Regions from separate parts of the Homo sapiens genome. Here all the other regions are reported to be linked to region 1. The links are microRNA targets in miRTarBase. Many come from high-throughput screens and were not tested one by one. Region 1 holds a microRNA gene; each other region holds the end of a gene's coding sequence.

Evidence for each region. Region 1 holds the annotated microRNA hsa-miR-3675-5p (UAUGGGGCUUCUGUAGAGAUUUC, at 1,414-1,436, opposite strand). A microRNA usually pairs through its seed, bases 2 to 8, with sites in the 3' UTR of a target mRNA and lowers its output. Matches are read on the target gene's strand: a 7mer-m8 pairs with bases 2 to 8, a 7mer-A1 pairs with bases 2 to 7 and ends in A, and an 8mer does both.
Region 2: miRTarBase lists CDADC1 as a target of hsa-miR-3675-5p. Seed matches in the 3' UTR shown: 7mer-A1 at 1,912-1,918.
Region 3: the mRNA of SYNDIG1L is a reported target of hsa-miR-3675-5p. Seed matches in the 3' UTR shown: 7mer-m8 at 1,054-1,060 and 7mer-m8 at 2,038-2,044.

What each region holds. Positions count from the first base shown.
Region 1 is chr1:16,857,575-16,860,923 of GRCh38, forward strand. It overlaps MIR3675 (microRNA 3675), which reads right to left and starts at 1,447; the gene lies at 1,375-1,447. It also overlaps the pseudogene PDE4DIPP9 and the pseudogene TRV-CAC11-2.
Region 2 is chr13:49,291,459-49,294,458 of GRCh38, reverse strand. It overlaps CDADC1 (cytidine and dCMP deaminase domain containing 1), which reads right to left. Exons shown (of 10, transcript NM_030911.4): 10 at 974-2,775. The coding sequence ends at 2,702. Among named protein-coding and RNA genes, the nearest start is that of CDADC1, 45 kb to the right of the region's middle.
Region 3 is chr14:74,404,808-74,408,097 of GRCh38, reverse strand. SYNDIG1L (synapse differentiation inducing 1 like) reads left to right here. Exons shown (of 4, transcript NM_001105579.2): 3 at 109-249; 4 at 405-2,199. The coding sequence ends at 563. Among named protein-coding and RNA genes, the nearest start is that of SYNDIG1L, 20 kb to the left of the region's middle. RefSeq lists an enhancer at 459-960.

The DNA.
Region 1 (3,349 bases):
CCTAGCTCTGATGCTTACTACCCATGCAACCTTCTTAACCTTTCTGAGCCTTTGTCATTACCTATTAAATGAGGATGATAACAGAACCCATCTCAAAGGGTGGATATTAGGTTTAAATGAATTAATACAAGTGCTGGCCAGGTGTGGTGGCTCATGCCTGTAATCCCAACATTTTGGGAGGCTGAGGTGGGCAGAACACCCGAGGTCAGGAGTTCGAGACCAGGCTACCCAACATGGTGAAACCCTGTCTCTACTAAAAATATAAAAATTAGGTGGGCATGGTGGTGCACCCCTGTAATCCCAGCTACTCAGGAGGCTGAGGCAGGAGAATCGCTTGAACCTGGGAAGTGGAGGATGCAGTGAGCCGAGATGGTACCACTGCACCCCAGCCTGGGTGACAGAGCAAGACTCTGTCTCAAAAAAAAAAAAAAATTAGTACAAGTGCTTAGAATGGTGCCCAGCATACATTAAGCTCTCAATGCTATTTGCCATAGTTATCAGTGTTATTGACACTTTGTGTTGAAAACACAGACATTCATCTTGGTATGCGTCCTGGTTATCTACTGCTAAGTAAGAACCACTCTAAAACTTAGTGACTTCAAACAGTACTTTATTATGCTTCATGGTTCTGTGGTTTGACTGGGCTCAGCTGGGTGGCTCTCACTTAGGGTCTCTTGTTTTGGGTCTCATCAGTTGATGGCATGAGAGTTTATGTGATGGCCATGATTGCAAAATACAGTCAGCCACAGTATCACAACACAGAAGAAATTCAGACATCAGGTGGTGGTTAAAACAGAAGACATGAAAGGTCCTATCTAGACTTAGGATGAGATGAGTCTAATTATTCATTGAGTATCTGCTGTGAATCTCTGTGATGCTGGTGCTGTAAGGGATGTGAAACGCAGAACTATCTTCATTCTCACAGACCTTACGATTTATCTAGGGACATATAATTAACATATATAGAACAGTTGAAGAACAGTGGCATGGTAAATTTTTTGTTTTGTTTTGTTTTGATACAGAGTCTCACTCTGTCACCCAGGCTGGAGTGCAGTGGTGCCATCTCGGCTCACTGCAACCTCTCCCTCCCAGGTTCAAGCAATTCTCCTCCCTCAGCCTCCCAAGTAGCTGGGATTACAGGCATGTGCCACCATGCCCAGCTAGTTTTTTTGTGTGTTTTTAGTAGAGGAGGGGGTTTCACCATATTGGCCAGGCTGGTCTCGAACTTCTGACCTTGTGATCTGCCTGCCTCAGCCTCCCAAAGTGCTGGGATTACAGGCGTCAGTCACCACGCCCGGCCCATACTAAATTTTTAGTGCAATAATTTATCAGGGTAGAATTTACTCTTAAATACCTCCTATGGCTTACGTGCCAGAATTCAGTTTGGGGGAGTTCCTTAGAGATGTTCTCATAGAAATCTCTACAGAAGCCCCATAACTTATCATCCACCCTTTCCTCTTCTGTCCTGCATTAGGAAATATGATTCCCTGATTCAGGATCAGCCCCGGGAACTGTCTTACCTACGGCAAAAAATACGAGAAGGGAGAGGTGTTTGTTATCTTCTCACCCAGCATGCAAAAGATACAGTAAAATCTTTTGAGGATCTCTTAAGGAGCAATGACATTGACTACTACCTGGGACAGAGCTTCCGGGAGCAACTGGCCCGGGGAAGCCAGCTGACAGAGAGGCTCACCAGCACACTCAGCACCAGTAGGTTGGCCACAGGGCTTTGGATACTCTCAGTCACCCCACAGTTCCAGCCCCTGGTGGCCACCACATCTCCACTGCAACTTTTTAACGTAGGGTCCTGTTTCTATTTCATTTCCTGGGGCTAATACAGGATCAAGACTGCTCAATGGGGAGCATGGAGAGGAACACACAGGGCTGGAGATGCCATGGTTACAACTCTAGAAACTTCACCACTCATGGAATGTGACCTGTGGGGCAGGGGCGGCATCTCTCTGGTGCTAAGAGGGAGTAGGGGACATGACATGGAAGGGCCTTGTTATAGGAGGAAGAGCCGTGAGCTAACAATTGCAAGACGTCGAGGCGCTGAGGCCAAAGGGTCCGTGAGGAAACAGGCGCAGCTCGCGCCCCTCGGCCTACGGGAGGGAGGGCAAGGAGAGTCCTACGGTTCCTGGGAGGACGAGAAGAGCCAAGAGCCCCGACGGCCGGCGCCGGGGAAAAGGCCCCGAGGCGGGGTCCGCATCCCTGGAAGGGCGGCGTCCACCCTCCTGAGAGGCACGGGGCGCCCAGGGCTCGGACGCTCAAAGCCCGCCGGCTCCTGCAGCTTCTGGGAGCCGAAGAGTGTCAGCCGGGAGGATCCCGCACACGGCGCTTAGTTCTGGAACTGCATACCCAGGGGAGGATGCGGGAGCCCGAAGCCCGGGTATGTGTCCCCGAAGCCCGGGTGTGGGTCCCCATGGTTTTCGTGTTGGGGGTGGGCGCGGAACGCTAAGCCTGGGCCTATTGGGAGCCATAGTCTTCTTGATGGCTGGTGCTTATTGGGCTTTTTTCAGTCGAATTTCGAAATGCAGTTGAATTTCTTACTTTGGAAACGATAATAGAAATGGCTGACCTAAGATTTTCATGATGATATTTTGCCTTTTTTGGTGTATATGCAGTTTCTGTGGTGTAGTGGTTATTATGTTCGCTTCACATATGAAAGGTCTCTGGTTCGAGACTGCGTGGGAACATCGTGTTTTGTTTTGTTTTTTTGTCCCTAAATTTAGTGAGTTTAATCGAGGTTGGGAAACAAACAGAAAAGTAGTTGAACCTGTGGCTACACTTTAGACCTCCTCAATCTAGACAGATCGTTGACCAGGCTACAGTTTCCACTGGTCTGCCAGCAAGAGGCCTGCTTAATATTAGCTTTGGTTCCAGAAATTCCTTCAGGTTCTCTTCATTCTCTTCTATCGCCTGTATTTTCACAGGCTGACACTGAAAGTGGATGACATCTTAGTGCATTTCCTAAGGGTCCCGCTTGGCTTCGCTTTACTCTGGTAAGTTGCAGATCTGGCTGATTTGCAAGACAACAAAAACAAAATATTTTTTAAAAAGGTTCTAAATCTGCATCTGGAAGTCATAGAGTCAATATTCCTAAATCACATGAATTATGTGTATACATTTGCATGCATACCCCTTCCCCAAATAATCCTCAGAAAACCGGTTAAGTTTTAGCATCTGTGACTCTGAGATGCATATGAGGCCTTTGTAAATTTAGAAGTTAAGAGTAGAAAGTACAGGTTTGTATTTTAGAAGGAGATTTGGGAATAAATATAGCTCTGGTGGATATAGATCATATGTTAAGGTTTGTTGGCCAGAGCTGGTTTGTGTCTTGGGTGTTGGG
Region 2 (3,000 bases), not on the chromosome of region 1:
AGTGCCCCACAGAGCTTCTCCAAACCCAGGCGGGCTCCTGGGGTGGCTCAGCAGTCTGTCTCCATCACTTTTTCCCAGAAATTTGTCTCATTCCCACTGTTTACCTGGCAAACCCCTGGATCCCCTCAGGCCCCACCTCATCACCTCTGCCTCTACAGGGTCCTTTCCATGACTCCCCAGAGTGCTGGTAAATCCTCGTGTGCCCCCACTGTTCCTACAGTTACATCCACAATGGCAGTTCTCAGCCTTAAAGGTCACCAGAATCACCCGCAAGGTCGTGAAACCCCAGCTTGCTGGGCCCACCCTGAGAGGTTCTAATTCAGTAAGCCTAGGGAGCACCCTAAGAATATGCACTTCTAACAAATAGTCTGCTGGTCCAGAGACATTTTTTTCTTTTCTTTTCTTTTAGACTAAGTCTCGCTCTGTTGTCCAGGCTGGAGTGCAGTGGCATGATCTCAGCTCACTGCAACCTCTGCCTCCTGGGTTCATGTGATTCTCCTGCTTCAGTCTCCCAAATAGCTGGGATTACAGGCATGCAATACCATGTCTAGCTTTTTTTTTTTTTTTTTTTTTTTGTATTTTTAGTAGAGACGGGGTTTTACCATGTTGACCAGGCTGGTCTTGAACTCCTGACCTCAAGTGATCTACCCCACTCAGCCTCCCAAAGTGCTGGGATTACAGGTGTGAGCCACGGCACCTGGCCTGAGAATCATTTTTCTTAATTACTTGATTCCATGCTTGTATCTTCCACTTGACTGTGAGTGTCTTAAGATCAGGAGGCATTTCTCACACATCTCATCCCCGCAGTCTAGCAGTGTTTAGCAGTCATTCAATCAATAAACAAATATTTATGGAATGCCTACTGTGTGCCAGGTACTGTTCTAGACACTGGGGTTCAGCAGTTAAAAAGTACACACACACACACACACACACCTCCCTGCCCTCATAGACTTCACCTTCTGAGGCTACACAGTAAACCATCAATGATTATTTATTGAAATCTGACCAGTTGTACAGAAGAAAAAAAATGGCATTATCATGCCTCTCTTAATAGTACTGTGGAAATGCCTATTTTTCCCTTTCTAATCACAGTTTTTCCCACTTGTATGCTTCTTCCTCTGATATCCCATCCCAACACCCAACAGGCAAATCCACAGACCTGGCAATATGCCAGGATTTTGGGTCTTACAAAATATTTACTGATTGATTTATAAAATGTTTGGTGTACATGACATGTTAGTTAGAAACAACAAATCCAAGAGCTGAAGCATGAGAGTTAATACAATAAAGCAATTTGGGAGGTAAGCAATCTCAGTGTTTTTATACTGATAAGAATATCTTAATTCACGGTTTTCAAACTAGCCTTAGTTACCTCTAAGTGTACATCACCTCCTCTCCTGTCCTATCCCATGCCCTCCATCTGTGTAGTGTTTATGGCAGTTCTTGGCTGCCTTGTATGATGACTCTGAACTCCCCATGGTCCTACACAGGCTGCAGTCACAGCCCTGGCATGGAGCCAATGTTTGGATGGTCGTGCGTGTAATTCTGAGAAACTGGTAGGAAGCCCAGTGAGGCCGTGTGATGTGGCGGAAAGGCAGGGAACAAAAGCAGAGGCAAACCTGACCACCGCAGATCCAGGAAGACATTTCTCATGAAGCACCCCAGGCCACCCCTCTCTAACCTAGGAGAGAACAGAAAATGTACCTTCATTTTTGGAATAATTTTCTGAATGTTTCTCAGCAAATAAAAATGTGAGAAATCACAGACAGCAATCTGGAATAGCTGAAATGACCATACTTTCAAGACTTTCAGTATTTATTCTTGAGGTTGGCAAATGTTTTTAAAAGGCTCTTCCTTTTGAAGATCAAAGCCATGAGACAACCTATGTTAATTATACAGAAGGGAAGACTATATGGGGGAGCAGCATTTATTAATGGAATTCTAGGAAAGCTAGTTTCAATATTCCAGACTCAAATATTTCTTCTCTGTTAACATCATAACCAAATTTGAGGTTCACTGTTAGTGATTTCAAGAGTCAGTGATATCAAGCAGCGACACTGTCTCAGAATAACACTCTCTTCCTATTGCTACCCAAAGTCTGTGATAAACAGGACCACAGAATTAACATTTACAAAATATACTTTAAAAATGGAGACAAAGTCCACTAACTTTATTTTTATGAGTCAATTCTAATTAAGTAAATTCTGATTACTAGAAAGCTTTGGGTATAAATGTGATCTTTTGGTTTGCTATACACTGACTCTTAAAAGATGACACTTATTTCCCTGGAGCAGTTTACTAACTGTCACTCTTGTAATTCAAAAGAATTAATATTTCTCAAAAGGTGTGTGATTCCCTGCAGAGGCATGACCTCTTGTGAAGCAGACCCTTTCAAATTGGCTAATATAAAGTCAAGATAAATAGAAATCAGTCCCTGTTGGTGATTACATTGGTTGAAGTTATTGCTCCCTCATTTCGTGTAATAAAATAACACACTACTACATTATGGAAAACCCACACATAAATCTAAAAGACAAATATTCTTATTAACACCATTTGTATCCTAGAAATAAATTAGCTTCCTTAAAAAATCTTTTCAATTATTCACAAAATCCATCCTTATTTTCTGAATGAACAAGGCTGAATTTTAGAAGTGCAATGAAAAGTTCTTGAGGTTCCCCTGCAGTGTAGACAGGCCTTCTTAGTGGATTCCGAGGCGCAGCTTCTTGTCCTGGTGCTGCTCTTCCTTCTGTGGGACAGGTCTCAACACACCATCTAGCATTGAGAATAACGCTAGGTCAGGACAGCTTCATTTCAAACCCATGGGCACTTGTTTCAGCCTTACATGTTGTAAGAGCAAAACAATGCTTAAGTTAAAGGAACTTTCACTTTATTTTATCTTCAAATTCTCAATTGTAGAGAATCCAATCTAGATAACTTACTCTCAGGCAATACAGAATCTGGCTTTTAAAAACTGGATTCACATTGGCCGGGTGCAAT
Region 3 (3,290 bases), not on the chromosome of region 1:
TTGCTCCATGTCACTGGCCACTGGGCATTGCCTTTTAAAAAACCTCTTGCCAGCCTGATGGGGCTGGGCTGATCCTGGGCCTGGTCACCAAACTCCACTGTTTTGCAGAGCGATGCCACTTCAACGGAGAGTGAAAGTGAAGACAACTTCCTCACGCTGCCTCCCAGGGACCACCTGGGACTTACTCTCTTCTCCATGCTCTGCTGCTTCTGGCCACTGGGCATTGCTGCCTTCTACTTCTCCCAGGGGGTAAGAGCACCTGGGGCCCAGGTCCCTTCTCTGGCCCGTCACTCTACTGGAGGGCTTGGCATCCCGTCTGCAGGATGGGGTCAGGGGCCTGGCAGGCTGGGCTGTTTGGCTGGGTGTGGGGACACTCCTGTTCATCAGCATGTCTCTCTCCCTAGACCAGCAAGGCCATCTCCAAAGGGGACTTCCGCCTGGCCAGCACCACCTCCCGCCGGGCCCTCTTCCTAGCCACACTCGCCATCGCCGTGGGGGCCGGTCTCTACGTGGCTGTGGTGGTGGCTCTGGCAGCTTACATGTCCCAGAACGGTCATGGCTAGTAGCCAGTAGGGCCTGCATCCTGACTCCCCTGCCCACCTGAGGAAGCAGTGGGGCTTGGAGTTGCAGACCCTATGGAAAGGCCCGGCCCCTGAAGATGATCCCGTGAGAGTGGCTTGCTGAGGGGGAGACCCCCATTCCACAGCCTGCAGAGCTCAGCCTTCACTTCTGCTTGCCCGCTGCTCCCAGCCCCAGAGCAGGGCCCGGGGCGCCACTCTCTAACCCAGGCTACAGACGGGAAACAGAAGGCAGGGCTGCCCACCAGGCCATCCCAGCAGGGCCTAGCTCCATCCATTCTGCCCATTCCCTAGAGGATCTCCTGCCCTACAGCCAGCCCACCACCTACCCTGCCAACCTCCCCACAGAGAAAGAGCAGGAGGTTACAGGGAGAAAAGGGGGTGCCCAGAGCACAAGGGGACCCGTCCCAATCCTTTCAGCCCACAGGGATCTTCACCTGGGGACAGCCTGAGCTTCCCCCAACTCCACTGTCTGGCCCCATCATGCCCAGACCTCAGCAGGCCAAGAAGGAAATACGTGGAGGCAAGGGGGCCTCTTGCTGTCTCTGATTCTAGAGGGTGCTTATCTCTGCATGGGCTTGTGAGGCACTGTAGATTCTAGATAGGGAAGAGGAGCCTCGGTATGTAAACTCTGAACCAAGGGCAGGTTCTTGGAGCTTCTTCATGCGGGTGCAAAAGGCAGTTGCAATGACAGAGAATAGAGGGTCCTGAAATATTGCTGTACTACATGACTCTTCCTACTCTCCCCCCACTCCCCGCCCCTATCATCCTTTTCTGGGCTTTGCCTGGGGGTCCGTGAGCTGGTGCCATCACAAGTAGACTAGACCCAGAGAGTGCCCTCAGCTCACCAGCCACTGAGCGCACGGCCCTAGGTCCAGCCCTACAGAAAACGCAGCAAGGAGAGACCCTAGGGAGTAGTGAGTATAGATGAGGGAAGGGACTCAGGGAAGGAATGGCCTGCTGAGTAGTCAGCGGTGCTTAGGAAGGCTTCCTGGAGGAGGTATCCCTTGAGCAAGTCCTAGGATGAATAGAATTCATCTAAGGGATTTGGTCACATAACTCTTTGTATTTGTAGGCAGGGATGTGGCAGGAACCTTCCATGGGAAGCTTCCAGGCTGTTTGGATTCTGCCTGGAACATCTGGGCTGGAGCCAAACTACAGCCATTCCTAAGGGTTCTGCCAACTCAAGGAGGAACGTCACACCTGTCTCTCAAAGACCAATGATGTTTTCCCATCTCTGAATGCTAGGGGGTCAGTGGTGGGTACCTGGTTACCCCTGGGGCATCTTCACTGATATCTCTGCTCAGTGCCAGTCTCAACACCCTCAGCCACTAGGGCACATCCAGAATTTTAGAGACATCTCCAGGTAGGCGGGGGGCAGCACCAATGTGGGCAGGCCTGTCTGGACTCAAGCTACAGGCCCCTGCTGTGCATGATGTGGGAACCTGGTCATTCCCATGCCCCATCCAGAGCCCAGGGCTGTGGCTCCACCACTGAGCATCCCTTGTCCCACTGTCCTCCCCTGCCTCGGGCACTGCCCAGCCCTCCACTCCTGCATCACAGCAGTTTTAAGGTCCCATTATTGTACTGATTTATCCTTGTAATAAATGTTTCTGTAACACCTGGTGCCCTCTAGGTATCTTGCTGTGCTACCTGCCCCGCCTTTGCCTGAATCCCATTCTTCTCCAAGACTGACCTGTTGCTATGTCTGCTGCTCTGACCCCTGGCAGCCTGCGGAGAGGACAAGCCCACGTATGGGCCTTAGGAGGAGTGGTGGCCAGAGTGTCTGCACCATCCCAGGATTCCTCTGCTTGGAGTAGTCTGGCTGTAGAGTGATGGCCTGCATTTGGCTTGCTCTAGGCAAGCCAAAGCAAGATCCGTGCCTGGAAAAAAAGCCCTTCTAGGCTCAAGAGCCTTGGAGGACAGGGAGGAAGGGATGTGAGCCAAGGTGACTGAGGCTCCATGGAGCTGCCTGGAGCTACCAAGGGTGGATACAGGGTGTGAGGGGGCCAAGGAGTCCACGCCCCTGCTGCCTGCTCCTTCACCATCTCTTCCATCCCAGGAGCCGCTCCTGGACCATGTGGAGAGGAAGGCATCTCTGCCTGCCTCAGGCCCCAGCTCAGCACCAAATCTCCAATATCCTCTCAGACCTGAGCCCCCAGGAGCCTGCCTGGGCCAGCACAGGGACTGGCCTGGCCTCTAGGTCACTTGGATGGAGGGCCCTGGGGAGGCAGGTTATGCACATCCCATATCCACGTGTGCACCTACTTGTAAGACACAGCTGTGCACGTATGCACACACACATGCTGCATGGGTTGCGAACCCCAGAAACAGAGATTAGCCTGTGAGATGGATATGAGGGGCTGCTGTTGGGATAACGTTTGTAAAAGCATGGAGAGGGAGGCAGATCTGGGCAGAGGGAGAGGTCAGGCTGCAATGCAGTCCTGAATGACAGGCTGGGCCAACCCACAGGGGAGCCAGAGTTGACCCAAATTGGGGTGAAGAGCCAGGTCTTTCCACTCCCTCATTGACCAGTCATTAGATGTGGGCCACCCAGAAAGAGGGTGTGACCTCAGGCAAGGCAGTGGTCTTCAGCTGAGACAACACAAAAACATTTGCCCTGAAGACTGTTTGCTGCCAGGACCTGCAGCAGCTGGAAAGCTGTCCATCCTTCCTGAAGGGATCCTGAGTGGCATATCACCACGTCCACCA